7 separate regions of the Homo sapiens genome follow, and regions 1, 2, 3, 4, 5 and 7 are each reported to be linked to region 6. Evidence: microRNA targets listed by miRTarBase, many of them from high-throughput screens and not tested one by one. Region 6 holds a microRNA gene; each other region holds the end of a gene's coding sequence.

Evidence for each region. The annotated mature microRNA hsa-miR-335-5p reads UCAAGAGCAAUAACGAAAAAUGU and lies in region 6 at 1,951-1,973, shown strand. An mRNA with a match to its seed (bases 2 to 7 or 8) in the 3' UTR can be bound and repressed. Matches are read on the target gene's strand: a 7mer-m8 pairs with bases 2 to 8, a 7mer-A1 pairs with bases 2 to 7 and ends in A, and an 8mer does both.
Region 1: miRTarBase lists LIPA as a target of hsa-miR-335-5p. The part of its 3' UTR that is shown has no 7-base or 8-base seed match.
Region 2: the mRNA of PITPNM2 is a reported target of hsa-miR-335-5p. Seed matches in the 3' UTR shown: 7mer-A1 at 666-672.
Region 3: miRTarBase lists TNS2 as a target of hsa-miR-335-5p. The part of its 3' UTR that is shown has no 7-base or 8-base seed match.
Region 4: miRTarBase lists TULP4 as a target of hsa-miR-335-5p. The part of its 3' UTR that is shown has no 7-base or 8-base seed match.
Region 5: the mRNA of SLC4A8 is a reported target of hsa-miR-335-5p. Seed matches in the 3' UTR shown: 7mer-A1 at 1,304-1,310.
Region 7: the mRNA of SMTNL1 is a reported target of hsa-miR-335-5p. The part of its 3' UTR that is shown has no 7-base or 8-base seed match.

The regions. Positions count from the first base shown.
Region 1 is chr10:89,212,331-89,215,407 of GRCh38, forward strand. LIPA (lipase A, lysosomal acid type) reads right to left here. Exons shown (of 10, transcript NM_000235.4): 10 at 1,242-2,731. The coding sequence ends at 2,498. Among named protein-coding and RNA genes, the nearest start is that of CH25H, 6.6 kb to the left of the region's middle.
Region 2 is chr12:122,983,296-122,986,390 of GRCh38, forward strand. PITPNM2 (phosphatidylinositol transfer protein membrane associated 2) reads right to left here. Exons shown (of 26, transcript NM_020845.3): 26 at 185-3,055. The coding sequence ends at 2,732. Among named protein-coding and RNA genes, the nearest start is that of ARL6IP4, 4.2 kb to the left of the region's middle.
Region 3 is chr12:53,063,400-53,066,399 of GRCh38, reverse strand. TNS2 (tensin 2) reads right to left here. Exons shown (of 29, transcript NM_170754.4): 27 at 2,983-3,000; 28 at 2,808-2,837; 29 at 2,021-2,656. The coding sequence ends at 2,518. SPRYD3 (SPRY domain containing 3) reads left to right here. Exons shown (of 11, transcript NM_032840.3): 10 at 1-86; 11 at 434-2,084. The coding sequence ends at 568. Among named protein-coding and RNA genes, the nearest start is that of MIR6757, 8.0 kb to the right of the region's middle. RefSeq lists an enhancer at 1-461.
Region 4 is chr6:158,506,239-158,509,333 of GRCh38, reverse strand. TULP4 (TUB like protein 4) reads right to left here. Exons shown (of 14, transcript NM_020245.5): 14 at 1-2,756. The coding sequence ends at 2,640. Among named protein-coding and RNA genes, the nearest start is that of TMEM181, 52 kb to the left of the region's middle. RefSeq lists an enhancer at 2,349-2,849.
Region 5 is chr12:51,507,131-51,510,224 of GRCh38, forward strand. SLC4A8 (solute carrier family 4 member 8) reads left to right here. Exons shown (of 25, transcript NM_001039960.3): 25 at 296-3,094. The coding sequence ends at 308. Among named protein-coding and RNA genes, the nearest start is that of SCN8A, 83 kb to the right of the region's middle.
Region 6 is chr7:130,494,176-130,497,270 of GRCh38, forward strand. It overlaps MIR335 (microRNA 335), which reads left to right and starts at 1,936; the gene lies at 1,936-2,029. MEST (mesoderm specific transcript) reads left to right here. Exons shown (of 12, transcript NM_002402.4): 2 at 1,193-1,347; 3 at 2,981-3,060.
Region 7 is chr11:57,549,755-57,552,849 of GRCh38, reverse strand. It overlaps SMTNL1 (smoothelin like 1), which reads right to left. Exons shown (of 8, transcript NM_001105565.3): 8 at 2,578-2,882. The coding sequence ends at 2,738. It overlaps UBE2L6 (ubiquitin conjugating enzyme E2 L6), which reads left to right. Exons shown (of 4, transcript NM_004223.5): 4 at 341-1,188. The coding sequence ends at 492. Among named protein-coding and RNA genes, the nearest start is that of SMTNL1, 14 kb to the right of the region's middle.

The DNA.
Region 1 (3,077 bases), not on the chromosome of region 6:
AGATGTTATCCACTAGGCAAGAATTAATTATACTCCTGAACAGAAATAATACTACCATGGCTGGCCATCAAATTCCAACTGGCTCAGAAAGCAACAAAGTTCTCTACCTTCCCTGGTAGATGCTGGAGAAAATCTTAGAAAAAGTAGTGAGGACATGAACAGACACTTCTCAAAAGAAGGCATTTATGCAGCCAAAAAACACATGAAAAAATGCTCACCATCACTGGCCATCAGAGGAATGAAAATCAAAACCACAATGAGATACCATCTCACACCAGTTAGAATGGAAATCATTACAAAGTCAGGAAACAACGGGTGCTGGAGAGGATGTGGAGAAATAGGAACACTTTTACACTGTTGGTGGGACTGTAAACTAGTTCAACCATTGTGGAAGTCAGTGTGGCGATTCCTCAGGGATCTAGAACTAGAAATACCATTTGACCCAGCCATCCCATTACTGGGTATATACCCAAAGGACTATAAATCATGCTGCTATAAAGACACATGCACACGTATGTTTATTGCGGCACTATTCACAATAGCAAAGACTTGGAACCAACCCAAATGTCCAACAATGATAGACTGGATTAAGAAAATGTGGCACATATACACCATGGAATGCTATGCAGCCATAAAAAATGATGAGTTCATGTCCTTTGTAGGGACGTGGATGAAATTGGAAATCATCAATCTCAGTAAACTATCCCAAGAAAAAAAAACCAAACACCGCATATTCTCACTCATAGGTGGGAATTGAACAATGAGAACACATGGACACAGGAAGGGGAACATCACACTCTGGGGACTGTTGTGGGGTGGGGGGAGGTAGGAGGGATAGCTTTAGGAGATAATGCTAAATGACGAGTTAATGGGTGCAGCACACCAGCATGGCACATGTATACATATGTAACTAACCTGCACATTGTGCACATGTACCCTAAAACTTAAAGTATAATAATAATAAAGAAAAGAAAAGAAAAGAAAAGAAAAGAAAAGAAAAGAAAAGAAAAGAAAAGAAAAAGTAGTGAGGGAAGAGAGCGTGGGAAGATTTGCAAGCAAAGCCAAGAGTGCCCTCTTGTGGCATACAAAAAAATGATTTTTAAAAATCACTCGTTACTTGGTAGCCCTTCATTTCCCGGAGTAAACACATTAACCTTGAGAAGAGTTCCAAGTACTGCCAAGAGAGAAAGGGAAGAACCGGATGACTGTTAAATAAAAGAGAAAAAACATACACACAATTCTTTGGGCCTATAAGTCTCACTCAATTTTATTGAAAAGTTTAAGACTTTAAAAGTTACAAAGTAGTATTCGCCCTGCCTATATTAACCATTAACAAGCATTGTACTGTTAGTGCAGCTAAAGTAATTATATCAGAAAAACATATCAATTGTCATTTTGTCCACCGGACAGTATTGTAAGGAAATGATGCTGCAAGAAAAGCAGACAAATATGGACTTCCCAACATAGGGACGTGAAGCAGGTGTATTAAAAATAAGGATGCATATAAAACTAAGACACAAAATGAATCCCTGAGCTGAGTTTGCATCCGAAAACATCACGTTCACACTTCATTTGGGTGAAAATGAACAAGGACACTTCTCATGGGCAACCACGGGGCTTTGGCTTCACACAGATGTGATCAATAACGACAGTAGCGGGCTCCAAGAGTACATTAATCTCAGAAAAAATAGTGGTATAGTCTCCACAGGGATTTGCTTCTCAGATAAGTAGAACTATGGCCTGCCATGAAATTGAGAGCTCATGAATATAGATGGTTGAGTGTATCAGTCTTCAAAGCATTTAAAACATACTTTTGTTTTTGTTTTATCAGTGCAATTTGTTTTTGAAGACGCCGGAAAACTATTTCATTTAACCTGAGCAATTAAAACGTGTCAAATCACAGCTGTCACAGTTAGGTTTGATAAAATTAATTGTTAGCATCCTTATTACTGGCACAGCTGTGATATTTCTGGATTTGACTATGCACCTGCTGCAGGAAAACATGATAAAATGTCATTTAGATCTCTAACTACAAGACCGTTAGACTAGAGAGCTCTTTAAGGCAAGGACATGAAAACTGCGTACTTTTATACCTCGCTTAAGTCAGTGACAGATTTACCAATGACAACACAATTTTAAAATTCCAACACATATATTACTTTGTCCTATGAAGGGCAAAAAGTCAATATATTTTAAATTTTAAAAACAGAATGGATATAATGACCTTTTTACACATCAGTGATATTTAAAAGACTTAAAGAGACAATACTATGGTTGAGACACTGGCTTCCTATTCCAGCCCTAATTAAAGAAAAAATAGCTAGTATGTTTCTAATTGAAACTAGAGTGAACTGGGCATCTTCAAAGTTATCATTTTCTTGGATATAAAAAAACAAAAGACCTGGGAAAGAAAAACAAGTGTTTTACAGAAATGAAGCAAACACATTTTCACATGACATAATCATTGACTTGGTGGTACACAGCTCAAGTCCAGCTTTCACTGATATTTCCTCATTAGATTAATAATTTTATTATAAAGCCTCCAAGGGGCATCCAGGCCCCAAATGAAGTCAAGATGCTCCCATTCCGGAATGCTCTCATGGAACACCAAGTTGGTGATCTGAGTCAGTAAGATATTGACGTCGTAGACATCTGCAAGCCAGTCGTGACCCCCGCTCCAGACTGCAGTCGGCACAAGCATGTCCTTCACATTGTATGTGGGAGGATAACTCTACAATGAAAAGGAACCAGAGAAAGCCTCGTTGTTGTTGTTGTTTTAATTTTCAAAATCACAATAAGCGCAATCTCCATTAAACATTGTCTAGTAAGTTTGACTAACAGACTAAATTTTTAAAATCTCTTTGAGTATCTTTTCAAGTTGCCATTACCGGCACAAAAAAAGAAATCTAACCCCAAATGAGAGAATGCTAATTATAATCGCCACTAGCTGTGGAGCTGCTGCCGTAGGCTGGGCACCAAAATGAATGTTTAATCCCCGGCAAGGAAGGTGTTGTACTCCATAGGTAGTACACTCAAGGCAATAGTGGCTGGAAAGAGTTTGGGGTCATGCCCTCCTA
Region 2 (3,095 bases), not on the chromosome of region 6:
CGTTTCACTGAGGTCTGTGAGGGCAAACTGAGTTCCATCCCAGGAAGGAGCTAGAAGCAGGCTAGGCCTAGAGTCAGCCCCGCACTCACGTGTTGGCGTCACTGTGAGTGTCACTAGCATTACTGTTCCATGCCCCCATCCCACCATGCCCCACGGTCGCCACTGCAGTAAAGAGATCCAGAAGGAAGCCTTCCCGCTTCTTTAATTGGTGTAACAGACATGACGTTGTATACAGAGCACACTCAGGCCCAATGATGCGGGGACAGCAGGGACGGATGGGGAGATGGGGACACTGCTCACACATGGCCCAGAGAAACAGACGGCACACGGACAGACCAGACGGGAGGGGCTGAGACGTGAAGGCTGTGATGGGGTGGGCAGTGGGACTCAGACCGAGCCAGGGAGGGGTGGGGGGTCTCTGCTGAATCCCTCTTTAGAAATCAAAGAGAAGGCAGGTGGTGGGGCGTGGGGGTGTGGTGGGAGTGGGACTAAGGCTTCTATTCTAACAGGCCTGGGGGGTGGCAGTCAGCAAGGCCTGCCTCACCCTTTGGTTATGACTGGTCAGGCCTGAGCCCTGCAGCTCAGCACCCAACTCTGTAAACATTTTTGGTATTTTTAAAGGACGCTGCCCTCCCTCTCTTAGTTTCAGAAAGACTGGTACTTCCTCAAGAGGAGAATGTGCCAAAAGGAATCTGAAGGGAGGTGGAAAGCAGACCTGGATACAGAAGAGACTTCCCATGGGGGGGCAGGCTGCCCACCTTGCCATCTATGGCTGAGGGCCGCTGGGAGAGCCCCAGGGGACTATTGCTGTTGTCCTTGGCATGGCTGGCGGCTGGGCAGGCAGGCGGGGAGTGAGGAGCCGTGGGGGAGCTGCCCCCCTGGGGAGAGGCTGAGCCCACTGCCCACAGGGCCTCCCGGCCTTTATTGCAGGAGGGCCCGAGACTCTTCCAGGTGCTTCTCTGGATGGCTGGTCTCCCAGGCAGCAGGCAAGACAGGATAAGGTGGGGCCAAGAGAGGAGGAGGCACTGGCCACAGGGCCCCTGACAGGGGCTGTGATTGTCGGGCCAAGCAACTTCCTGCTGGGAGCAGGGGGGTCAGATATTGCACTTTCACTGCAACAGTTACATGAAAACTTGGTCCATAAAATAATCGTTGCTTTATACATAATGCCTGAAACAACAAAAAGCTACATCTTAAATATGAATAAACCCTGAAGGTTCCATCCCTCCAGACTTTTTTCTCTGCACAAAATAAATAGCTTTCACTCTGTATAGACCCACTTTTGCAGAACATTTACACGACCCTTTGGCTGTACATATCTACACACGGGAAAAAGTTAACATCACTCTGTGCACCTCCCCAGCCCGGTCCATGCGTCCCAACACCAGACCCAGGTCGGCCGTAGCTTCTCGGGGACAGAGCCTGGTCGCTGGACAAAGGCCGAGGCCAGGCAGGCTCTCCCACTTCCGGGAAAGCCGAGGAGCAGCAGAGGGGCCGCCGGAGCTGGCCGTTGAGCGCCACAGCCAAGGTCACGCTTGGTGCTGGGGAGAGAGGGCAGACGGTCAGACCCAGCGTGCAGGACAGCATGGTCCTTGTTCAGGCGAGAAATGAAGTCATGGCTGCCTGCCCTGAAGCTGACAAAGCAAGTTGTGGCTTCTTAGATTCGGCATGAAAACGGAATTGGCATTAAAAAAACCGAAGTGTGTGCCCCACCCACCCCAGAGTAGAAATTCAGTGGGATTGCCGGGGCCAGGTGAGGCAAGGAGCCCATGCCTCGCTAAGTGGGCAGGAGCAGGGCCCACGGGACCCAGAACCAGGCTGGACTCCGTCACAGTGCTGGGTGTTTTCAGTGTGGAGGGGCTGCTCTCAGTACTGAAAGAGTTAAGAAAAGGAAGCAGCCAAGGATTGCTCGTTTAAAAAAACCTCATAGAAATCAGATTGAGAAGTAGAAAGGCGTAGAAACGTGGGCGGGCGGCCTTGACTGATGGCAGGGAGCGGAAGAGGCGGCCAGGCCCGTCCAGCCCGTGGCCTGAGGCTGGAAACAACACTGGCCTGGGCTCCAGGCGGGGCAGGCAGACAGGTGGGCAGGGTCCGGGGTGCAGAAATTAAGATACAGCCTTTCTCTCCTGCTTGCACGAGGCTCTGCCGCACTGGAGCCTTCAGTGTGGTTGTAGGTCCTGGGTCAGCAGGTACTGAGTTTCATGCATGTCAACGGGGCTGTAGCCATAGGAGGTGGTAATGGGTCTCCGCTCTCAAAAATCAGTGCAAAACCAGTGAGGTTGAACAGTTGAGAAACTCGAGTTAACAAGATGCAGGCTGGACCCCTGTTGGAGCTGCTACCAAATGGGAGGGGACCTGGGAGTGAGGGTGGCCAGTGGATGGGGAGGTGGCAGGCTGCGCCTGGGCCCACACCTGGCACCAGGACACTTGGAGATCCACACAGGGCAAAATGTCTGGGAGAACCTCCCGGGCCAGTCTGAGTGGGAGGTTCTGGTCCCTCTGCCATCCTGGGGCTGGTGGTCCCTGCCAGCTTCCATGACAAGCCGGACCCGTCAGGCCCGAGGACGTGAGGCAGGGCAGGGAGCACTGTGTGGTGCGGCCCGTGTCCTCCACAAGGCCCTGGGACAATCTCCCAGGCCCACGTCAGTGCGTGTGCCCAGGCCAGGCCTCCTGGCGGGGCTGGCCACCCTGGCCTAGCACCATGGAGACCCCGCGCTGCACTCACGGTGCCCTACTTGGGGCCCGCGGCTGCCCCCGGCTCCAGGCGGCCAGTCATGGCGCGGCCCCAGCAGCCGGCCGCCACACTCATGCTGCGCTGGCCCCGCTGCTCGCCATCCGCCTGGCTCTGTGTCCGCTCGTGCCGGTGGCTGGGCCCGCTGGGCTGGGCCGAGATGGTGCGAAGCAGGTGGTTCCGGGAGCGCAGAAAGTCGCCCTGGCCGGGCAGGCCGAAGCTGCCCTTGCGCAGCGCCATGCGGGTGGCCGTGTTGCGAGCGGGCCGCGCCCGGTGGCTGTACTTCAGCTGCGCCAGGTGGGCCGCGTAGCCATCCGTGATGAACTGCGGGGTCAGTGAGGACGGCTGTCACAGGCTGGGGCTC
Region 3 (3,000 bases), not on the chromosome of region 6:
AGGAAGGGGAAGAGGAAGAGGAGGAAGAGGAAGAGGAAGAGGATGGGGAAGAGATAGAGCCGGAGCATGAGGGCAGGAAGGTGGTGGTGAGTACGGAGAGTTTGAGGTGGGACCAGGGTTTTTGGGTCTGGGCAAAGGGTGGGTATTAGTGGGGAACAGAACTCACAACCAGGGTGGGAAAGACGGGAAGCTCTGGCGTTGCCCAAGGGCTGTTCCCAGCTCCAGGGGTTGCTGAGATCGGGAGACGGTCTTGGGAGGCTGTTTTCCGGCCTCAGCACGCCCTCTGGTGGTCACTTCCCATAACACCTTAACTGCCCCTCTCCAGCCCCGCTGGAAGCTGGGGTGATTGGGGTTCAGGCCTGTGGAGCTCCAGCATCCTCAGGGAAGAGGCCACAGCCTGCTTGCTCCATTCTTCTCCCCACCTCCTCCCCAGGTTTTCTTCACTCGGAATGGCAAGATCATTGGGAAGAAGGATGCTGTTGTTCCTTCTGGAGGCTTCTTCCCCACCATTGGAATGCTGAGCTGCGGGGAGAAAGTCAAAGTAGATCTGCACCCCTTGAGTGGCTAGGGCCTCCCCTCCAGACCTGCTCCTTCTCCCTGCTCACCCTCTGCTGGGCCAGGCACCCAGTTCCTGACTTCCCAGAGGCTTCGTTTACCCAGCAGGCCCCTGGAGGTGTGTAGTCACTCTGCCCCCACTGGCTCAGGCCCCTGTCACGCTTCTCTGTGCCCACGTTTCTGACCTGGTGCTGCCACTGTTGTCAGTCCCTGGGCCTGAGTCCCTGGTTGGACAGGAATGGACCCAAAGAATGGTGTTGGTATGTGGGTGGTCCCACTCGCTTTGGTCAGTGGGCTTCTGGGTCCCCCTTTCCCTCACCGGCCCTGTGTGGGTGGAGAGGCGTGAGCACCCTATCTCAGCTGCTATTCGGGCATGATGCTTTGTAGAGGGTAGAGTAGACAGCCCCCTCCCCTACTCACCATGGTATTTCTCCTTGAATTCCTCTTTCTTGTTTTCTTTCCTGGTTGTGTGAACCAGTTGCTGCTGTCATACCCCTGGCAGGGCCAGGGGACCTCTCTTTGGTCATCTCTGTCCTTTCACTGGCTGCTGCCCCAGGAAGACTCCTCTAGGCTCTCCATCTTTCCCTTGAGAGCTGGCTCCCCACCCCAACCTGCTCAGGCACCACAGAGGATCTAGGTCTCTGGCTCCCCATACCTGGACCCACATGGGTGGGTGCCTGTTGCATGTTTAAGAGAGAGGGGCTGTGAGGTGACAGGGCACTAGGGCCTTCACTCCTTTCTCCCCTTCCATCCTTTCTTTACCAGTGCCACCCATGTCCCTAGCTCCCGGGTATTGGGGCTGAGGCTCTGGGGCCTGTCTCCCTGCCAGCGTGAGGGCAAGACCCCAGAGCCTTAGCTGAGCAAGCCCAGAGGGGCAGCGTGGCCCCTCCCTCCCCTTTTCCTGCCCCGTCCCATGCCTCAGCTTGCTGCTTGTGCCAGTTGCCTGTTTCGCTTCAGTGTTTGATTCTAGCACTTACATGTGTCCTCCCCACCAAGCCCTCTATCTCCTTCTAATCCTTCAACCCCTGGCCCCCTCCCCGTAACAGTGACTTTTCCAGGGAGGAAGAGGCAGCAGGAGCTGTTGGCCTTGGTTTGCACAGAGCGGGTAGGGCTGTAGGGAAAGCGGGTGAGCTGTTGTGCTGCTGGGCCTCCCTTTGGCCCTCGCTTCCCACCCTACGATGTATGAAATGTATGTACAGACCAGAGATGTTTATACAGCCGATAAAGATGGAGTTTCCGTATTTATCAGTATGGCCGGAACCAGGAGCCTTTCTAGTCCACTGGGCTAGGAACAGGACTGCTGGATGGGGGCAGCCGAAGGCAGCTTGCTCATGGGGAGATGTGGACCAATGTTGGGCCAGGGATGGGAATCATATGTTCCATGGGCCTGGCTACAGGCCTGAGCACAGATACGTCCCCTGGGAGATGAGGCTTTGACCTTCCTGTGAATAAGTGTTGACTCCAATTTCGGCTAAAGTTTATAGAAATTCTTTATTATTAGACAAAAATAGACTCTCTTTTTTCCCCTATTCATGTGATCCTACTCTGAATCTCTGCTCAGAGGAGGCAGTGACTCGCTCCCCACCCCTCTCCCATCCCTGCCGTGCTGGCACCTGCAGCTGGGTGGAACTGGCAGGGGCTGATCCCCTGGAGGGCTGACGTTCTCCTGCAGGTGGGGCTGCCTGATCTCCTTCGGGGCTCAACTGCTGATGCCTCCTCACCCCTCACACACCCATCTCTGCCATCTGCTCACATGCAAGGTCATCTTGTGGGCCTGTCCACTTAACTTAGCAGGCTGGGGGCGGGGAAGGAGAGCAGTGTCCCAGGCCTGATGCCCACTCCTCATTCCTAAGGGAGGGTGCTTTCTCCTGGGTCTCCTGGGTCCAGGCCAGGGGATGTGAGGGCTGTGGGGTGCTGGGAGGGGGGCAGTGTTGATGTGGGCTCTGAGCTTGTGGCCTTCCTTCATTTTCTCTGGCCCAGTAGAACTTTGGTGATGAAGGTGACAATGGCGCCAGCAGGCTGATCTGGGTCAAGCTCTGCAAAGAGGTGACACACATTCTCCCAGGGGCTTCCCGGCTTCTTGGCCACGAAACCAAAGATCCTAGGGGGATAAAGGGTGGGGAAGGGGCTTAACATTCCTTCCACAAGGGAATGTAGCTGGCCTTGGTGAGACAAATCAAATGCCAGCATTGAGAGGACAGCAGCGCCCTGGTCCCTTGGAAGGAAGAGGCTGAATTCGTGGGGAGGCTTACTTGGAGGTGGTCCCGTCTGGGTTGGTCCATCTGCAGAAGGAGAAGAAGGTGAAGATGCACACCCCAGGGGACAGCTGCTGAAGGGGGGCCGGGGCCGGGGCTGGGGCTGGGGCTGGGAGCTGGGACCTGGTGGGACCATGGGGATTTGGGGCAAAGGGTTTGGAGGGAGAGTCACCTCCGGTCTTGAGGGTCA
Region 4 (3,095 bases), not on the chromosome of region 6:
TACTATTTGAGTGTTATCTCAAAAAAAAAGTCTCCTTTGTATATAATCAATAACACAAAATACAAAAAAAAATTTTTAAGTGATTAATAGGAATTTTTTCCCAATTAGAAAAGTTACAAATTATCCAGCAAAAAACCTTCTATGGGCCGGGAGTGGTGGCTCACGTCTGTAATCCCAGCACTTTGGGAGGCCGAGGCGGGCGGATCACCTGAGGTCAGGAGTTCAAGACCAGCCTGGCCAACATGGCAAAACCCCATCTCTATTAAAAATACAAAAACATTAGCCTGGCGTGTTGGCGGGTGTCTATAATCCCAGCTGCTTGGGAGGCTGAGGCAAAATAATCACCTGAACCCTGGAGTCAGAGGTTGTGGGGAGCCGAGATTGTGCCACTACACTCTAGTTGGGCGACAAGAGTGGGACTCCGTCTCAAAAAAAAAAAAAAAAAAAAAAAAAAACCTTCTATCATATCCTCTTTATTTCTTGCAGCAAAATATACTGTGACCATGTAAGTCGTTAACAAAGATACTATTTTTCTAAATAAATAAAATGGGTATAACTCACCAAAACGTAACAACAAAATAATTCCTAAGAACACTATGAAAAGCAAGATAAATAATTATCTCCTAAACGACAAAACAGGGGAATTGCATTTAGATTATCTAACAGGCTATAACCATTATTGCACAACCAATAAGCACTGAAACACCATATCAAGCTACATAAACTCATATAAAAGAATTAATTCTGATAACATTGCTGAATTCTTTCTGGAAGAATGCACCCACTAAAAATATCAGGTCCAATACGTTAAATATAAATGAGAAACTGGTATTAGATGGGAAATATCCTTTGCCACATCAGAAAACTTCGTCAGTATTTCTCTGGGGTTTGGAGAGAATTGGGAGTGATGTCATGTCATCTTGATCTGGGAAAAAAATGGGTCGGTTTCTTTTCCAATTTTTTAACTAAAACAGGGGATTAAAAAACGTTTAAATTTGAAAATACTTTTCTGTAGCATCTTCTACTTGTCTGTTTCCAAATAAAATGCAAATTTGGAACCCAACGCCAGCAGATAGTTCCTGTGCTCCTGCACAGCAGGCCCAGGAGAGGGGCCTGATCCTAAACAACATCACAGGTAAGACTGAGAAAAACAAAAACAAAAACAAAAAACAACAACAAAAAACAACAACAAAAAACACTGGGTTTTGTCATCAGGGCTTGAATACTGCCCACAGGTTCTCACGAGGACGAGGAAGTGGGAAGAGATATTCTAGGTAATTTTTTTTTATACAATTAACAAACTGTGATCAACCAACTACCTAGGTATTACAATTTTAATAACGTTTTCTCAGTGGTTTAGCTCCTTAGTAAACAGTCTGTACAGTTAATAAACAACTTTTTTTGTTAGAGAAGATCATGAAAATTTTGTCAAAGATTTGACCATACTCCTCTGTATTTTAATACCCTGGTGAACACTTAACATTTTTTTGGTTACATTTCTAATTTGATAGAAAGCATTTGTAGTCAACTGAATTTTAATGTAGCCAAGAGGAGAAAAGGAGTGGTTTCAAATCAAGCGTTGTCCACACTTTTAGAATGGGAAGGCATAGAACATGGTATCTCATGGGAAAGATCATGTTTACAGTAATGCATTCCAGATTAAAAAGTAAAAGGGGCAGAGAGAGTAGAGGCTGTTTCTCAGCATGTGAGGATCTAGTGACTGTCACCACATTATTTGAGAAAACTGCTACCACTACCACAGGCCAGGATCTTTCCATTTTTGTCTCTCACCTTCTCCCAGAACCAGTCATGCTGAATGACCATCACTGATCCTACGGAACTTTGACAAACGATGAAACTAGTGGAGGCTTTCAATGTAGACATCCTCAGCAGAGGAGTGTAGCCCTCGTACTGCTGCTACAAGTCACACGCTGAGTCACATTGCTGTCTGCAGAGTGATGTGAACCTGTGTATACGTGCAGTTTCTTCTTTACCCTTCGTCCCTTCCCCAACATCCTCAGTGAGCAAATCGCATTTCTACCTGGTGAGAACACCCCTGTAAAGAGCCTACTTTGTTGGTCCAACACAGTGTGTCTGCCCAAATGCCCTTTATTAATTAAGTCACCTTTTGGGGAGTAACATAATCAGTGTAAATCAAATGCTGTCCCCATCCCATTCCCCAAGAACCTGCATCTTGAGAATTTTTGGCTGTGTTTTGTAAAAGCTTTTTGCTTTTACGCTAGTGGTGATGTTGGAGGAGAATACAGGATAATGCATCCTCCCTATGTCTAAAAGAATAGCAGGCTCTAAGGCAGACTGTCTTCATTCTGAAGGGCCCAGTAGAGCATTACCACAGCCAAGCTGTTTCCTGAAAGAACAGCAGGTGCCTAGCACTCTTTGCTTCCAAATGCCACTGAAATGAAAGAAGAAAAGAAGAACAGACAATAAAAGGTAATAAAACCCAACCAAATAAATGACGACCACAGGTCAGCGCCCTCTCCTGGGCCTGCCGGGCTTTTCCAGTTTTGCTGTTGGCTTCTGGTCCTCCCAGGCATCGGACCCCTAGAGGGCTCCTCTGGCATCTCCGAAGACCTCTTCCAAAGGCTCTCTGCATCTCTCTCCTCCCCACACCAGTCTCTTCATTTGAGGCGCTGAGTCACGTTGGCCAGGGCAACTGCAAAGGCCTGCACGGCTGAGAACGGATACTGGAAGTCTAGAATGTACGCACTGCCATCAATCCGTCCAAACTGCATCACCTGGAGGAGGGCAGGGGAAGCAAAGACATTAAAGAATAAGGTGAAAAGGCCAGGCGCAGTGGCTCACGCCTGTAGTCCCAGCACTTTGGGAGGCCGAGGTGGGCAGATCACGACGTCAGGAGATAGAGACCACCCTGGCTAACACGGTGAAACCCCGTCTCTATTAAAAATACAAAAAATTAGCCGGGCGTGGTGGCGGGCGCCTGTAGTCCCAGCTACTCGGGAGGCTGAGGCAGGAGAATGGTGTAAACCTGGGAGGTGGAGCTTGCAGTGAGCTGAGATTGGGCCACTGCACTCCAGCCTGGGCGACAGAGGAGACTTCATCTCAAAAAAAAAAAA
Region 5 (3,094 bases), not on the chromosome of region 6:
AAAGTCACAGCCACCAGTGGGTGGTAGTGGTGATTTATGTCTTCATCGAATGGGTTAAAATGAATCTCTGCTGAATGTGAGTGAAATATAGAATCTTGTTTCCTTCGGAGGAAAATCCAGGCAGCTGTCGAAATGTATAACGCACATGGTTATTTTTAGTTGAGAACTAGTCTACTTGTAAATGAACTTAAAATATAGCCAGATCCAAATTGTGGTGACATCTTCAAAGTATTGTGTTAAAAGGAGGAATGAATCATATGTTCCCTTTTTGTCTAATTGTAACACTTTTATTCAGTCTCTTCAACTAAGAGTCTTTGCTGGGATGGAAGATTTGGGCCGTGTGGTGCCTCAGGGAAGTTCTGGTTACAGAGAAAATGGCGAGTCTCTCAGAGAAGAAGCAAGACCAAGTCTGGCCCTGTCCTTGGTCATCTCAAAGCCATGCCGAAGCATTCAGTTATTCTTGGTGTGCATTGGAAGGCATCCAGCTATCCCCATACCAGCAGCCAGTCACCAGATGTGAATGTGGAAGCAGAAGACCACCTCCTGTTGGTTCTTCTCCTCTTCCTTCTTTTTCTCTTTAGAACGGCCACCATTGAAGACCTAGCTTCCCATTTTCCAGACGTTTTCTCTGAAATTCTCTGCTGGCCTGCCAAGCCATATGGATTCATTCTGCCACTGAGGAGTCCTTCAGTGAGGTCCCTCTTCCTAAAGGACAGAGTGGGGAGTAGGAGGGGAACAGAGAGGACATCCTCTCTGGCTCTCCAGTGCTCTTAGTGTCTACAGGCTCCTAGGCAGCCCTGGGCCTTGGTTTGATTACCTCCCCTGGGGGATGCTGGTCAGACCCAGAGGTTGTCAGGAGGTCAGCTACCAGGAAGATCCATGATCTGGGCATTGGCAGTGCCTGCCACCACAGCCAGGAAGATGCCTCTGACCTGGGTGCATCTCCATCACTCCTTAGCAGCAGCCTGCATAACTGGCAAGAATCTTGGATGATACAAGAGCCAAGAAGGGACATTTGAGTTGTGTCGCTTAGATAGGAAAGGGATCCAGGGAAAATCAACAGTAAGTGAGGATGAGCAGTGTCTCTTGGTTTTCATTGAGGATAGAGTAAGAGATTGAGTTTAGATTGCAACAGAAGGAATTAGTTTAGATACCAGGAAGAACTTCCTAGCCTGAAGATTTGTCATAGTGTCTGCTTTCTAGATATCTGGGAAAGATTTGATAATAGTTGTTTGTGAATAGAAAGGAGGATATGATGTTTTTATTGGCCATTTTGCGGGACTCTTCGACTTCTTGCTGCTGTCTCTTGAGGATACATTCCAATTCCATCCTGGCGAGATCCAAGTGCTTACGTACTGTCTCCTTAGCTGCCTTAGAGTAAACGATCATCAGTTCAATGGACCAAAATCACCTTCAGCCATGTGGTTTCTTCATCATCATGGATTTCTTTTGGTTGACAAACATTCTGGCTCTCAGATGCAAAAAGTCACACTGGGAAATGAACTGTAAGTGGTGAAATTAGTTTTGGTATTTAATTTAAAACTACATTTATAGTTTTTCTCTTCTCTTCTATGTTGCAATGAATGTAAAGTATTTGGGATCCAGTGCTTATAAACCTTTCCTTCCTTTGTGCACAGAATGTAACTAGCAAGCCCATTAGCACCCAGATAATTCTATCATGTTAGTTTCCCATCCTGGAAAATCTTTGTACAGTGGGAAGTTCCCCGATGTGTTTTTCTTTCTTAGGTGAAGGGTTGGCTATATCACTTTATTGAATTTTGCATTCCTTAGACTTTTAAAATATACTAATGTATTCTAGTCTTACTCTAAAGACCTTTGATGTTAAAGGAATCCTTCATTTATTTCATATTCCCTATCTCATAGGGCCACAATTATTTTAATACAGAGATGATTTTCAAAATATTTTAACAACTGGTACAGGACAGATGCCAGCCACTCAGAAGGGATGCCTGCTGTAAACAAGCAGTATGTATGGTTGTACCAATGCCTATTGGCTGAACATTATGCTACTTTCAGATATTAAAATGGTGTTCCTTTGAATCGTGGGTATTGTTCCTGGTTTGTCTCATTTCTATCACAAGGCTGTTTTGGGCACAGCCTTAGCTTCCTTTCATATATATATGGTGCAGACAGGATAGGTCATGCTTCTTGGAACCTATATGGGCATTAAAATCTTCATGAGCCAAAGCTTCACATTTTAGCACTTTAGGATAACTGTAGTAATTGTACTCATTTACCTACCTAATTGGGAAGAATTAAAAGGCAGCCCATCTGGAGGATAAGCTTTCTTGCAGACTTTTCCCTTGTCCCTCTCTGGCTGCCTCCTTGAGCTTGCCACTTTTTCATCTTCATTGTTCCCTGAGAACATCTCCCCTTTCTTGCTCTATCTTGCCCCTCCCATCTTTTCCTGCCACCTCTGTGTGGGGAGGTTGATGACCATTTCACCTCTTTCCCTAGCCTCAGCACAGCTGTAAGGAGTGTATCAAAACTGGGTGAGAGTATCACTCAGAAAAATGCCTCCCCTAACACACGGATGTCTTGTGCTGCCTTGACCGCTTGAGGGGAGGAGCCTTCATTAACTCTGTGTAGTGCAGGTACAGGACCACCTGTGCACTTTAGGGTACTTCTCGAGCTAGACCCTCCTGGATCACTGCGCCTTAGGAATGTTAGCTACTTTTTAAAAAAAATATGATTTGGTGCGTTGTTGGGGTGAACTCCATGGGGAAGATTGTGAGTGAAGATGGGAAGGAATTTGGGTGGTTTTGCCACGAGGTGATGGTTGGGGTTGGGCGAATGGGTTGGATGATCCTGGCTCTGTGGGTGTGGTGCTCGGTTGCCTCCGTACAGTTGCAGTTCACCTTTGTGCATGGTGATTACCAGTCACTCTAGGGATTGTAGGTCCCAACAGCGGTTCCAGCAGCCTGCACAGCTGGTACGAGGACAGCTGGAGGAGGGTCTGATATCCCTGCAAGTGATGCAGGATAAAACTTCCCGGCCGGGCGCAATGGCTCGCGCCTGTAATCCCAGCACTTTGGGAGGCCAAGATGGGCGGATCACGAGGTCAGGAGATCGA
Region 6 (3,095 bases):
TTGTAAGTTGAGGAAGTTAGCGAACGGGTAGGTAGATTACAGGCAATAGGGAAGAATGTGTGTACAGACGGAAAGCCATTTCCCCCAGGGCTTTAGCAATTAATTTATTTCAGCTCTATGACAACTCTAATTTTAGTTTTGGAGGGTATTATTTCCATTCTGGCTGTTTTGAGAGAACTTCCATTCTACTGACAATTCTTGATCTGTTGACCATCAGAAGTCATAGACTTGAAACAGAACGGTTTATAATTCCTGTTTGGCACTCCTTGTCAATGTGGATAAACTGACTTGTGCCTTTGAAGTCCTGGGCATGGGAGGGTTGGGTGTACCAACCAGTGCTCTTTTTCCAAAGACAAAATCAATTCTCACACGCTGGGTATGAGTTATGCCTTATCTGGGGGTGGGGGAGCATCTTAGGAAATTAAATGGAAACTTAAAGAGTCTGCTAAGAAAAGCAGAAATGTAATCTACCGCCTTGACCTCTCAAGAGATTAGATATTCAGGGTCATGACAAAGCTGCTTATGTTGGAATACACAGTGCAGCTATCTTACTTTCACAGACTGTTTACCCTGAGCAGTTTCTCAGCCCAAATCCAGAAAGGAGTACTAAATGGGGCTTCATTTAGGCAGGAGGGCTGAAAATCAGGAGTAGCTCTCTGCTTGAGGACATGTGATAAGTTACTACACACACACACTCTTTAAAACATGAGATATAGCACATATATATTTTTTGAACATTTTACTGGTTGGGGGTAGTGGGTAGATGGTAGAGCTTTTGGAGTAAATAAGAAAGAAGTTATTTTTTTCCTGGGAAGCCTTGATAAAAGTCAACGAAAGAGTGTCCAGCATTTAAGTCATGTCCCTTTTATTTATATAAAGTCCTCTTCAGCAGGTATTGGGAAGACCACAAGGGTAGGGGCTAAGGGGTTAAAGTCGGGGAGCAGAGGCAGAAGATTATATGTTGAAATAATGTATTTTTTTTCCTTAAGATTAGAATGATGAACAAATATGGTGAGTGCTATGGCAGACAGAGGTTTGATTATAGTCTCGGTCAGCTTTGTGCCTATGTGAAGGGCAATGTAATCATTGCATGGTAACAGCAATCTCCCACCCCATCTTACCAGGTTTTGGTTTGTAGATGAGTGGACAATGTTACCTGACTGCTTACAGTGGGTCTCTGCTTTTCCTACAGGATGAGGGAGTGGTGGGTCCAGGTGGGGCTGCTGGCCGTGCCCCTGCTTGCTGCGTACCTGCACATCCCACCCCCTCAGCTCTCCCCTGCCCTTCACTCATGGAAGTCTTCAGGCAAGTTTTTCACTTACAAGGGACTGCGTATCTTCTACCAAGGTAAGAAGTGGACTATTGGAAGTCCTGCGTGTATCGGTCACATAAGTCCCAGCTGAGGTATTTATTTTGTGGCTATTGGTCTCTTGTTGCTCCTTAATGATGGAGGAGAGTATCTCTCTCTCTTTCTGTGTAGTGTGCTTGCAGAGAAGCGCAGAAAACTGCTGGGAGAATGGGGGTAGGGACTGAGATTCCAACCTGCAGACCTTACCTTTTAGTATAAGTTTTCTTTGTAGCTTGATATGTATTCCAATATTAGTTTTTTTTTTTTTTTGAGCAACCTGTCAGGTAATATATAAAATATTAATAGATATAACCACCATTGGTTCTCTCTCCTTACCATCCCTGATTTCATTTTTTCTGTAGATTATTTGTAGTGTAACTGTGATTTAAGTCTTGATACCATTATATAAATTAATTTGCTAGTGATGATGATTATTATGACCACTACTTATCAAGTAATTACCATATGCCAGGCACTGAGTTATGTTTTCAGCCTTCATTGTTTAATCTTTACAACAGCATTTGGAGATAGGTGCCATTAACCTCATTTTATAGGTGAAGAAACTGAGAAACAGATTGGAAATGATTTGTTTTGAGCGGGGGTCAAGAGCAATAACGAAAAATGTTTGTCATAAACCGTTTTTCATTATTGCTCCTGACCTCCTCTCATTTGCTATATTCAATTAAGTAAGTATACAATTTTTATTATGTTGGCTTGGGTTACTTCCAGTTTTACTGTTTTAGAAAACTAATGTTGAAGTAAAAGCTTCATGTCCATACAGTTTATTTTTTCCTTACATTTTCAAACTATACTACTTGTATAAATGGAATGATTTTATTTGCACAGATTCTCAAGAACAAAACTCTTAGGCTAAAGTATATACAATTTTTAACTGCTTCTAAATTATTTTTGAAAACCTTATTACCAAATTTTCATGTCACTGGCAGTATATGAATATACCTGTTCTAATCCCATACTATTAGCAAGGTTAATATTGTCTAAATGTTTACCTAATTTAGATGATGCTGAATGCTTCCATATTGTCATATGCATTAAAAAAGTTCATGTTTATGTTGATTAAGCCCTTTTTATAGTTGACAGGATTTTGTAATAGTTTTATTATGTTTTTGATGTTAGATTGGGTCTCCTGCTGAATAAAAAGTGCTGAGCAAACAGCATAAGCTAAAGGTGTTCCTTGGGAATAGTTGCTGTATCTTAGAGAATTTCTGTGAGGCCATTCATGATAAAGTACAAAGAATTTGTAGTTTATGTGTTGTGATCATATGCTTTTAACTGAAAATTTACTTTTCACTGAAAAAATTTGCATATTACAGAACAAAAGGAGAAATGGGGAGATGCTGTTTAAAAACACCTAGGTGAAAGTAAACAAGGTGCCTTCAAGTATTTTCACATAGCATGATTTTTACAATGTTTTAATATACAGATTGAAAGGAGAAAAGGCCTGTTCTCACCTAACGCAGTTAAGCTTACATTTTACAAATAATTGTGTCATTTTAATGTCAATTTGGTCACAGTTGCTTGTTCTTTGTATCAGATTACTTAGATTTTAACATCTTCGAGGTTATTTTTATAGGGATTTGGCATAATTGATTGTACTTTCCTTCTTCCTAGACTCTGTGGGTGTGGTTGGAAGTCCAGAGATAGTTGTGCTTTTACACGGTTTTCCAACATCCAGCTACGACTGGTACAAGGTAATGAAGTCAGACTTCTACGTCCTACTATGTCT
Region 7 (3,095 bases), not on the chromosome of region 6:
AAGTTTATTTGGACTACCAATATAATGGAGGAAAACAGAGCAGTTTTTGTTGAAATGGGGATAAGACCCAGAAACCTCACTTATCTCAGTGGCCCCTGTGATGAGGAGCTTCTCTGAAGCCATGGAATGTAGTTGTTTGAAAACCACTGATGTAATCAGTCAAGGCCTTGGGTGTCACCAGCCAAGAATGAGCGGGGCGTTTGATCTGGTCGTAGAGTAATCCTAAGCGATGTAACCTTTCCCCCAAGGAGTGAGTGTGGAGTGTCAGGACATTGGGAACGGGCAGCCATGACTCCCTTCCCTCTGCCCTGATATCCTGATCTGGCCTGTCTCTCCCCAGTCCTGGAGGCCCTCAATGTGCTGGTGAATAGACCGAATATCAGGGAGCCCCTGCGGATGGACCTCGCTGACCTGCTGACACAGAATCCGGAGCTGTTCAGAAAGAATGCCGAAGAGTTCACCCTCCGATTCGGAGTGGACCGGCCCTCCTAACTCATGTTCTGACCCTCTGTGCACTGGATCCTCGGCATAGCGGACGGACACACCTCATGGACTGAGGCCAGAGCCCCCTGTGGCCCATTCCCCATTCATTTTTCCCTTCTTAGGTTGTTAGTCATTAGTTTGTGTGTGTGTGTGGTGGAGGGAAGGGAGCTATGAGTGTGTGTGTTGTGTATGGACTCACTCCCAGGTTCACCTGGCCACAGGTGCACCCTTCCCACACCCTTTACATTCCCCAGAGCCAAGGGAGTTTAAGTTTGCAGTTACAGGCCAGTTCTCCAGCTCTCCATCTTAGAGAGACAGGTCACCTTGCAGGCCTGCTTGCAGGAAATGAATCCAGCAGCCAACTCGAATCCCCCTAGGGCTCAGGCACTGAGGGCCTGGGGACAGTGGAGCATATGGGTGGGAGACAGATGGAGGGTACCCTATTTACAACTGAGTCAGCCAAGCCACTGATGGGAATATACAGATTTAGGTGCTAAACCATTTATTTTCCACGGATGAGTCACAATCTGAAGAATCAAACTTCCATCCTGAAAATCTATATGTTTCAAAACCACTTGCCATCCTGTTAGATTGCCAGTTCCTGGGACCAGGCCTCAGACTGTGAAGTATATATCCTCCAGCATTCAGTCCAGGGGGAGCCACGGAAACCATGTTCTTGCTTAAGCCATTAAAGTCAGAGATGAATTCTGGAGTGCAGCTGAGTCTTTGATGAGGGGATGGGGTGGTTTCATCAGGACCATAGAGGACTAGGGATTTAAGCATAAATTTCTGACCTTGCTTCCCTTGAATGTTCCCTAAACATCATAAGGAATGTTGGCCATGGAAAAATAGGCCATCCTTGGACAGAGGAGCTTTCAGAAGGTCCACAGGGGTGACGTCCCCATTTTATTTTATTTATTTATTTATTTATTTATTTATTTATTTATTTAAGACAGAATCTCACTCCGTCGCCCAGGCTAGAGTGCAGCAGTGCAATCTCGGCTCACTGCAACCTCCGCCTCCTGAGTTCAAGCGATTCTCCTGCCTCAGTCTCTTGAGTAACTGGGATTACAGATGCCCGCCACCACGCCTGGCTAATTTTTGTATTTTTAGTAAAGATGGGGTTTCACCACATTGGCCAGGCTGGTCTCGAACTCCTGACCTCAGGTGATCCACCCGCCTCAGCCTCCCAAAGTGCTGGGATTATAGGTGTGAGCCACCATGCCCGGCCAACACCCCCATTTTAAAGATGAGGCAATTGAGGCACAGAGCACTTCAGTGGATTGCTGGGGTCCACTCTGCCAATCCACACCCCTGCAGGTGAGCCAGGGTTATGGCTGGGGTGTGTTTTGTTTTCTGTATTTTTCATGAGCTGCTTTCATCAGCACACATGCCCCAAATGGCTGATAAAGCCAGACTGGATAGTTAGCAGGAAATTGTAATCAGCTCAGGGGTTTGTATCTCATGAGCAATGGAAAAACAAAAACAAGCCAAAACTTCAGCCAGGGATTAACTTCAGTTAAGGGATTAACTTAACCCAGAAGAAGAACTTTCTGGTTGCAATTGTTGTAAGCTCCTGGAATACTGCTGGCTTTTCAGAGATAGAATATGGGGTGATTTGAGTCAAGGAAGTCACCCAGATCCCACTAGTTTCTAGAGAATCTTCTCCAGCTCCTGCCCTGGAGTCCCCTAACCTGAGAAGAAGTGTGAAAAGAGGGGAAGATAACCAGAAGAAGTGCCACCAGAGTCAAAATGTAAGTTTTTTATTTTTGGCGACCACTTACTGAACACTTGAGTGGCAGGACTGGGCAAAGCTTTTTGCCCATTTCATTATCTCGTTTAACTCTTGCAACACCTTCATAAGGTTGGAACTCTCATTATCCCCTTTCAGACTGTAAACTGGGGCCCAGAGAGGTTAACTGTATGTGTCACACAGCTGGTTAGTGGTGGGAACCAGGCCATTGTCCTTTCCCAAACACCTTGCGCAGTTATTGAGACCTCAGCAGGTGAGGAATCCCCTATGGCCAGAGTTTATTATCCCAGAGTGCAGAGGTTCCTGGGCCAAGTATGGAGAGAGCACTGAGGGGCCAGACAGGATTTTACAAAAGTACTTTTAATGCAGTTAAAACCAACGCCACACACCCTTGCCTAAGCCCCTGGCTCTGGTGCCTCCATGGAGCAGAAGGGAACCCCCGGGCCGTGGCTGCTGAGCTGGGCACCCTGCCCATCTCTGCCCACAGAGCCAGTCACCTCCTCACTTCTTCTTGGTCTTCACCAGTCCTTTCTGCACAAGGCTGCGGTACAGTTCCTGGATGTATGTGTAGACGCACTTGGAGTCGGGCACAGCCAACCGCACCATGTCATCCACGTCCAGCAGCTGAGCACAGTCAGCCAGTTTCCTAAGGAATGGGGTGGAATGAGGAGCAGAAGGTCAAAGGTGAAGGATATGGGAGCCAAGGGGATGGGTGCAGGCAGCCCAGCAATGACGAAGCCCATAGGATGGGCTGGGATGTTGGGGCTGGGAGATCATCTAAGCCAATCATCCCATTATATATCTAGATGAGATAACTGAGACCCCAACAGAGTTAAGACAAACCCAGGCCAGGTGCTGT